2 linked regions of the Homo sapiens genome follow. The protein of the gene in region 1 purifies or fractionates together with the protein of each later gene. This does not show direct contact. Each region holds a gene or a part of one and is shown on either strand. Other genes may lie near its edges.

The links. The genes of interacting proteins can lie anywhere in the genome.
Region 2: the proteins of DEFB121 (region 1) and COL6A2 purify together in Homo sapiens (affinity purification with mass spectrometry; 2 studies listed by BioGRID and IntAct, with this or other methods). This does not show direct contact.

Annotation. Positions count from the first base shown.
Region 1 is NC_000020.11:31,404,166-31,407,604, reverse strand, and holds DEFB121 (beta-defensin 121 isoform 1 precursor), read left to right. Parts: upstream 1-1,389; 5' UTR 1,390-1,452; coding exon 1,453-1,510; intron 1,511-2,519; coding exon 2,520-2,692; 3' UTR 2,693-2,760; downstream 2,761-3,439. UniProt on the Homo sapiens protein: Has antibacterial activity.
Region 2 is NC_000021.9:46,101,112-46,104,611, forward strand, and holds part of COL6A2 (collagen alpha-2(VI) chain isoform 2C2 precursor), read left to right. Parts: intron 1-3,500. UniProt on the Homo sapiens protein: Collagen VI acts as a cell-binding protein.

The DNA of each region.
Region 1 (3,439 bases):
ATGCCTGGGGCAGCTCTGTTTCTCACTGTAGATCTGTGAGTCGCCTGGAGTAGCTGTGCCCCACGTATCTCTCATCCTCCTTGGACCACTGGGGCATGTTCTTCTCATAGTGATGGCAGAGACACAGAAGGGCAAATGAAAATATTCATCATCTCTTAAAACCTAGGCTTACAACCGGCACACCGTCACTTCTGCCCACATATCACTAGCCAAAGCAAATCACATGCCAAGGCCAAAGTGAAGGGAAAATGAAATAGAGTTCTCCTAGGATGAGACCTTGGCAAATGTGTGAATTCAAGTAGGGATGAAGAAGTAGGGCCAAGATTACAATCTACCATTTCTTTCTTTCTTTTTTGAGACAGAGTCTCGCTCTGTTGCCCAGGCTGGAGTGCAGTGGCACAATCTCGGCTCACTGCAACCTCCGCCTCCCGGATTCAAGCTAGTCTCCTGCTTCAGCCTCCTGAATAGCTGGGACTACAGTGGCCAGCCACCACGCCCGGCTAATTTTTTGTATTTTTTTTTGTAGAGACGGGGTTTCACTGAGTTAGCCAGGATGGTCTCGATCTCCTGAACTTGTGATCCGCCTGCCTCGGCCTCCCAAGTTGCTGGGGCAATCTACCATTTCTTATAAGAAAGACCAAGCTGGGCATGATGGCTCATGCCTTTAATCCTAGCACTTTGGGAGGCCAAAGCAGGAGAATTGCTTGAGACCAGGAATTCGAGGTTCCAGTGAGCTATGATTGTGCCACTGCACTCCAGCCTGGGTGACAGAACAAGACTGTCTCAAAAAAATAAGTAATAATAAAAAAAAGACCACAACAATAATAAATGGCTTTTCTTTTGCTACCTATGAGGGTGCTACTTGTTCCTATTAAATATGTACTGTTAAAAGTAAGGGCTATGGCTTTCCTGCTCATTCCACTCCATGAATACTGACATTCTGGTTTCCAGTGGTGATGGCCATGGAGCTATTAAGGTATTTTCCCCTGCTCTGCCCTTCATTTGGTATTATAATGAATCATCAACATATGGGACATCCTAAGATGTCCTTGTTGCTGGGAAGAACCCAAGGCGCAGAGAAGTATCACTCCTTTTCTGTCTTATCTCTTTTTCTCTCTCTTTTTTTCTCATTAATGAAAAACAAATTAGAGATGAAAATATTTTTCCCCTTCTTGGTTCTCCAGCTGTATTATAAAATTCTTCAGAGGCAAGGCCGTATCTTCTCTTTGTTAACGTCCCTTCCCCCTCTCCCAGCCTCCTCAGGCAGTGTGGTTGATACCTTCCTTGCCTGCCTGTCTGATCTCAAATGACTGTTCCCGTTCTGGTTCACTGATCTTGGCTCTGCCATGCTCCTCAAGGCAATAAATACCAGTCTGGACTGCCCAGAATGGAGTCCTCTGTCTGTTTTACCAGTTGAGAAGCCTCCTATCCCTCCCTGATCATTCATCATTCATGAAGCTCCTTCTTCTGCTTTTGACTGTTACTCTGCTCCTGGCCCAGGTCACCCCAGGTAAACAGGATCTCCAGAAGGGGATGGGAGTCAGGAAACCTGATGCATGTTCAGAGAACTCTGGGGACTCTGACAGGTTGGGCTGGGAGAATGGCCTGGTAGAGCTCATTGAGGCCTTTAGGTAGTCTCTCTAGTTATGGGGAAGTTTGAGTTCTCTGGTACCAAATGGTCTTCCCAGTGCCCAGTACTTGACCATTCCAACCTTATCTCTGGTTAGCTCTGGAAAAGCTGAACGTGATGACCTGAGGATGGGATAGGGTGTAAAGAGAGAGACTTGGGTATGGAGTATAGAGAAAATGGGGACTTTTTCAAAAACATTCATTGAAAGGATTTGAATTTTGATGCATTGTTGCCTCTAGGAAAATGGTTCTCAAATTTCTGATTGTTTGAGGATTCTGATTCCACTTTTTAATGCAACCTCAAATCATCTGGGTTACCTTAGGTTGTAGGTTCCCTGGAATAGCTGTTCCTAATTCCCTTGACTGGTTGGGGCCAGAGAAAAGTCCCAGGATGTTGTGAAGAAGGCAGTATGATATTCTTGGGAGTTTTAAAGGTGCCCTAGAAGACTTACAGATGTTAAATGAGTTTATTTAATATTCCTGTCACCTTTCATTGATATGGTCAGAGGGGGTACCAAAGAACAATGAGAAAAGGTGGCTAATTGCTACTGGGCACCTGGGTACATTATAATATGGGGGAGATAAAACCCTTGGGAGAGGGGTCCTCTTCCCCCTCCCAAGGAGCTGGCCAAGGAGGGGAAGCTATCCAGTAGGTCCTATGCCACTGAGTTGGGGGGACTCTGGGGGTTCTAACAGGGGGCACAAGTGAAGGAAGAAAGCGTAGTGGTCTATAATCTCCCTTAAACTTAGGGGATCCTGTGTAAGAGCTTCTTCCCCACAGACCTCCTCATTTCCCTCCTACTCCTCTACTGGGCTTTAGCCTCTTCCTTTCACACCTTTCTGCTTTCTTTCAAAACTGACTCTATTCTCTTCTTCCCTTTTGTTTTCAGTCATGAAATGTTGGGGCAAGTCAGGCAGGTGCAGAACAACATGTAAAGAAAGTGAAGTATACTATATATTATGCAAAACTGAGGCTAAGTGCTGTGTGGATCCCAAGTATGTACCTGTAAAACCAAAATTAACAGACACAAATACAAGCCTGGAATCAACTTCTGCAGTCTGACACCTCTCTTCCAACCTTGAGTCTCAACATCATGGGATCCTGCAGTTCTATTAAATCATTCTTGGCAACACCCTGTTTCTGTCTGATAGTTCCACCTAGTTACATTTAGAAACAAGTAAATAAAGAAGAAAGGTTGTGTGCGTGTGTGTGTGTGTGTGTGTGTGTGTGTCCGGTGTGCATGTTAGGAAGAACAGGATGGACCAGTAGGTGGTAACAATCTAAACCTTGCAAATAGCTCCTAGCCTGCTGACCCATAGCTGGTCCAAGAGGGCATGAATTAAAGAATATTCATTATATCTACTTGATTCCTGTTTTCTTCTAGACCAGCACTGCCAATAGAACATTCTGCCATGATGGAAATATTTCCTGTCTATGTTGTTCAATATGGTAGCTACTAGCCACATGTGGCTACTGAGCACTTGAAATGTGCCCAGTGTGAATGCGGACCCGAAGTTTTAATTTGATTCAATCGAGCTTTAAATTTATATAGCTAAATGTGGCTAGTGGTGATTGTATTGTATAGCAATGGCTTTAGAGTCTAGGCTGAGGCATGCTGTGGGTCTCAATCTATGAGTATTTTAGGGGAGTCCAGGAGGCAAGTATGATGAACACAAGAACCCATTCTTGGCCCATGGCCTCTTTCTACTCCCACACCAAAGGTTATAACTTTCCCTTGATCACACCTGCAGTTCTGCCCCTCAGGGGCTCTAGGGCAATGCCTCTTGTGAGTCTTCCTCATGGTGGACA
Region 2 (3,500 bases), on another chromosome or scaffold:
TGAGGTGGTATCTCACTGTGGTTTTGACTTGCATTTCCCTCATGATTAGTGACGTTGAGCATCTTTTCATGTGCTTGTTGGCCATTTATATATCTCTTGGGAGAAATATCTGTTTAAGTCCTTGACCTATTTTTGAATCAAGTTGATTGTTTTTTGTTGTTGAATTTTAGGAGTTCTCTGTATATTCTGGATATTAATCCCTTATTAGATACACAGTTTACAGATATTTTCTCTCATTCTCTGGGTTCTTTTTACTCTGTTAATGATGTCCTTTCACTAGATAGATGCAAAAAATGTTTTTAAATTTTGGTGTAATCTGATTTATCTATTTTTTCTTATTGTCATACCCAAGAAATCATTGCTCAGTCCCATGTCACGAAGGTGTTACCTTATGTTTTCTTCTAAGGGTTTTAAAGTTTTAGGTCTTAAAACGTAAAGATCCATTTTGAGTTAATTTTTGTATATGGTATTAGGTAAGGGTCTAACTTCATTCTTTTGCATGTGGATATCTAGTTGTCTCTGCACCGTTTGTTGAAAAGACTGTCTTTATCGAATGGTCTTGACGGCTTGATTGAAAGTCATATATGCAAGGGTTTCTTTCTGGACTCTCTGTTTTATTCTGTTGGTCTGTATGTCTGTCTTTATGCCAGTGCCACACTGTTGATGACTGCAGCTTTGTAGTAAGTTTTGAAATTAGGACATGTGAGTCCCCCAGCTTTGTTCTTATCTTTCACGATTTTTTTTTTTTTTTTTTTTTTTTTTTTGGCTATTCGAGGTCCCTTGAGATTCCATCTAAATTTTAGGATTTATTCACTATTTCTGAAAAAAAAAACAATCACTGGGATTTTTATAGGGATTACATTAAACCTCTAGATCAATTTGGGTGGTATTGACATCTTAATATAGTAAGTCTTCCAATCTATGAACATGAATGTCTTTTTTTAAATGTCCTCTTCAATTTCTTTCAGAAATGTTTTGTAGTTCTCATTGTACAGGTCTTTCACCTCCTAAGTCAATTTTTAAGTATTTTATTATTTTTGATACTATAGTAAATAGAATTGTTTTCTTAATTTCCTTTGGATTGTTCATTGTTAGTGAATAGAAATACAAGTGATTTTTATGTGTTTACTATGTATTCTGCTATTTTGCTGAATTTGTTTATTAGTTGTAACAGTTTTTGTGGAATTTTTAGGGTTTTCTACATACAAGATCATATCATCAGTGATCAGAGATAATTTACTTATTTCTTTCCAATTTGAATGCCTTTAATTTCTTTTTCTTGCCCAATTGCTCTGGCCAGAACTTCCAGTACAGTGTTAAATAGAAGTAGTGAAAGCAGGCATCCTTCCTTTATTTCTGACCTTAGAGGAAAAGCTTTCAGTCTTTCACCACTGAGTATGATGTTCACTGTGGCTTTTTCGTATAATATGGCTTTTATTATGTTAAGGTTGTTTCCTTCTATTCCTAATTTGTTGAGTGTTTTTATCATGAAAGGGTATTGAATTTTGTCATATGGTTTCTCTGCATCAACTGCAATGATCATGTGTGAGTTTTTTTTCCTCCTTCATTCTGTTAATGTGTATTACATTGATTGATTTTTTTTTTTTTGTATGTTGAACTATCCTTGCACTCCAGAAATAAATCCTACTTGGTCAATTCATTAAATTCCATTTAATTGCATCAAATTATACCAAATTTAGTTTACTATTAATAGTATTTTGTTTAGGATTTTTGCATCAATGTTCATAAGGAAGACTGGATTGTAGTTTTCTTTTCTTGCAATATCTTTGTCTGGTATTGGTATCAGAGTAATGCTGGCCTCATAAGAATGAGTTAAATAGTGTTCCCTTCTCTTCAAGTTTTTTGAAAATTTTGGGAGGGTTTGGTGTTAGTTCTTTATGTGTTTGGTAGAATTCACCAGTGCAGCCATCAGGTCCAGAGGTTGTTTGTCAGGAGATTTTTGAGTATTGATTCAATCTCCTTACTAGTTATGTCTATTCAGATTTTCTATTTCTTCATGATTTGATTTTGTCTTGATAGGTTTTGTCTGTCTGGAAATTTTTCCATTCCATCTGTGTTATTCAAATTGTTGACATATAGTTGCTTATAGTACACTCTTATAATCTTTTTTATTTCTGTAGAATTAGTAGCAATGTTGCCACTTTCACTTATAATTTTAGTAATTTGAGTTTCTTCTTTTTTTCTTAGTCTAGAATCTAGCTTAAGGCTGGTCAATTCTGTTATCTTTTCAAAGAACCAACTTTTGTTGTCATTGATTTTCTCTATTATCTGTCTGTTCTCCATTTTGTTTATCTTTGCTCTGATCTTTATTTTTTCCTTCTTTCTGCTAGCTTGTTCTTTTTCTAGTTCCTTACATTGTAAGGTTAAGCTCCTATTTGAGACCTGTCTTTTTTAATATAAGCATGTATAGCCATCAGTTTCCCCCTTAGCACTGCTTTCACTGTCGAACAAGTTTTTAAATTTGTGTTTTCATTTTCACTCATCTCTAAGTATTTTATAATTTCCCTTGTGATTTCTTCTCTGATCCTTGGTTATTTAACAGGGTGTTGTTTAATTTCGTGATTTTTTAAATGTCCTTGTTGCTGATTTTTAACTTTACTCCTTTGTGGTCTGAAAAGATATCTTGTATGATGTAGATCTTTCAAAATCTATTGACACAGACTTTGTTGTTGCAACTAACCCCGTCATTGCAAGCCCTTCTCCGTCTGGTTGAAGTGACTTCCAGGAGATTTAAAGGGCTGGCACCCTTTTCTCCCTTCATTTTTCTCTTTTTCCTCTTTTGAGACGTAGACATTGAAGACTAGCACATTCAAAAGCAACCATATATGTGGAGAAAATAAAAAAGTCATTGCACATGCTCAGGGGAAGTCACGGGCTTAGAAAAGACCTAAGAAGACCTTAAGTTTATACTTTATGCTGATCCTTAGCACAGAGACAGCAACAATCAAAATTATAAAAACAAGAAAAACCAGCAAACTCTGGGGAAGAAAGAGATTTTGATTTCACAAGGCATACAAAGAAACTTTCCTATTTCAAAGGAAAAAAAAACAACAGAAACTGTCACTGAAAAAGACTTGGTGGTAGATCTACTAGACAAAGGCTTTGAAAGAACTATCTTAAAGATACTCAAATAACTAAGGGAAAATGTGGAGAAAGTGAAAGAAAATGTAGGAACAAATGAAAATATCAATAAAAAGCTAGAAATTTTAAAAAGAAACCAAAGGGAAATTCTGGAGCTGAAAAGTACAATAACTGAAATTTAAAATTCACTAGAGAAATGCAAAGGCAGATTTCAGCAGGCAGAATAAAGAATCAGGGAACTTGAAGATACAAAAATGGAAATTATTGAGTCTGAGGAGCAGAAATAAAAAGATTGAATAAAGGTGATCAGAGCCTAAGGGGTCTGTGGGATACCATCAAGCAAACCAACATAAACATTGTAGGAGCCCCAGAAGAAGAGAGAGCAAAGGGAGCAGAGA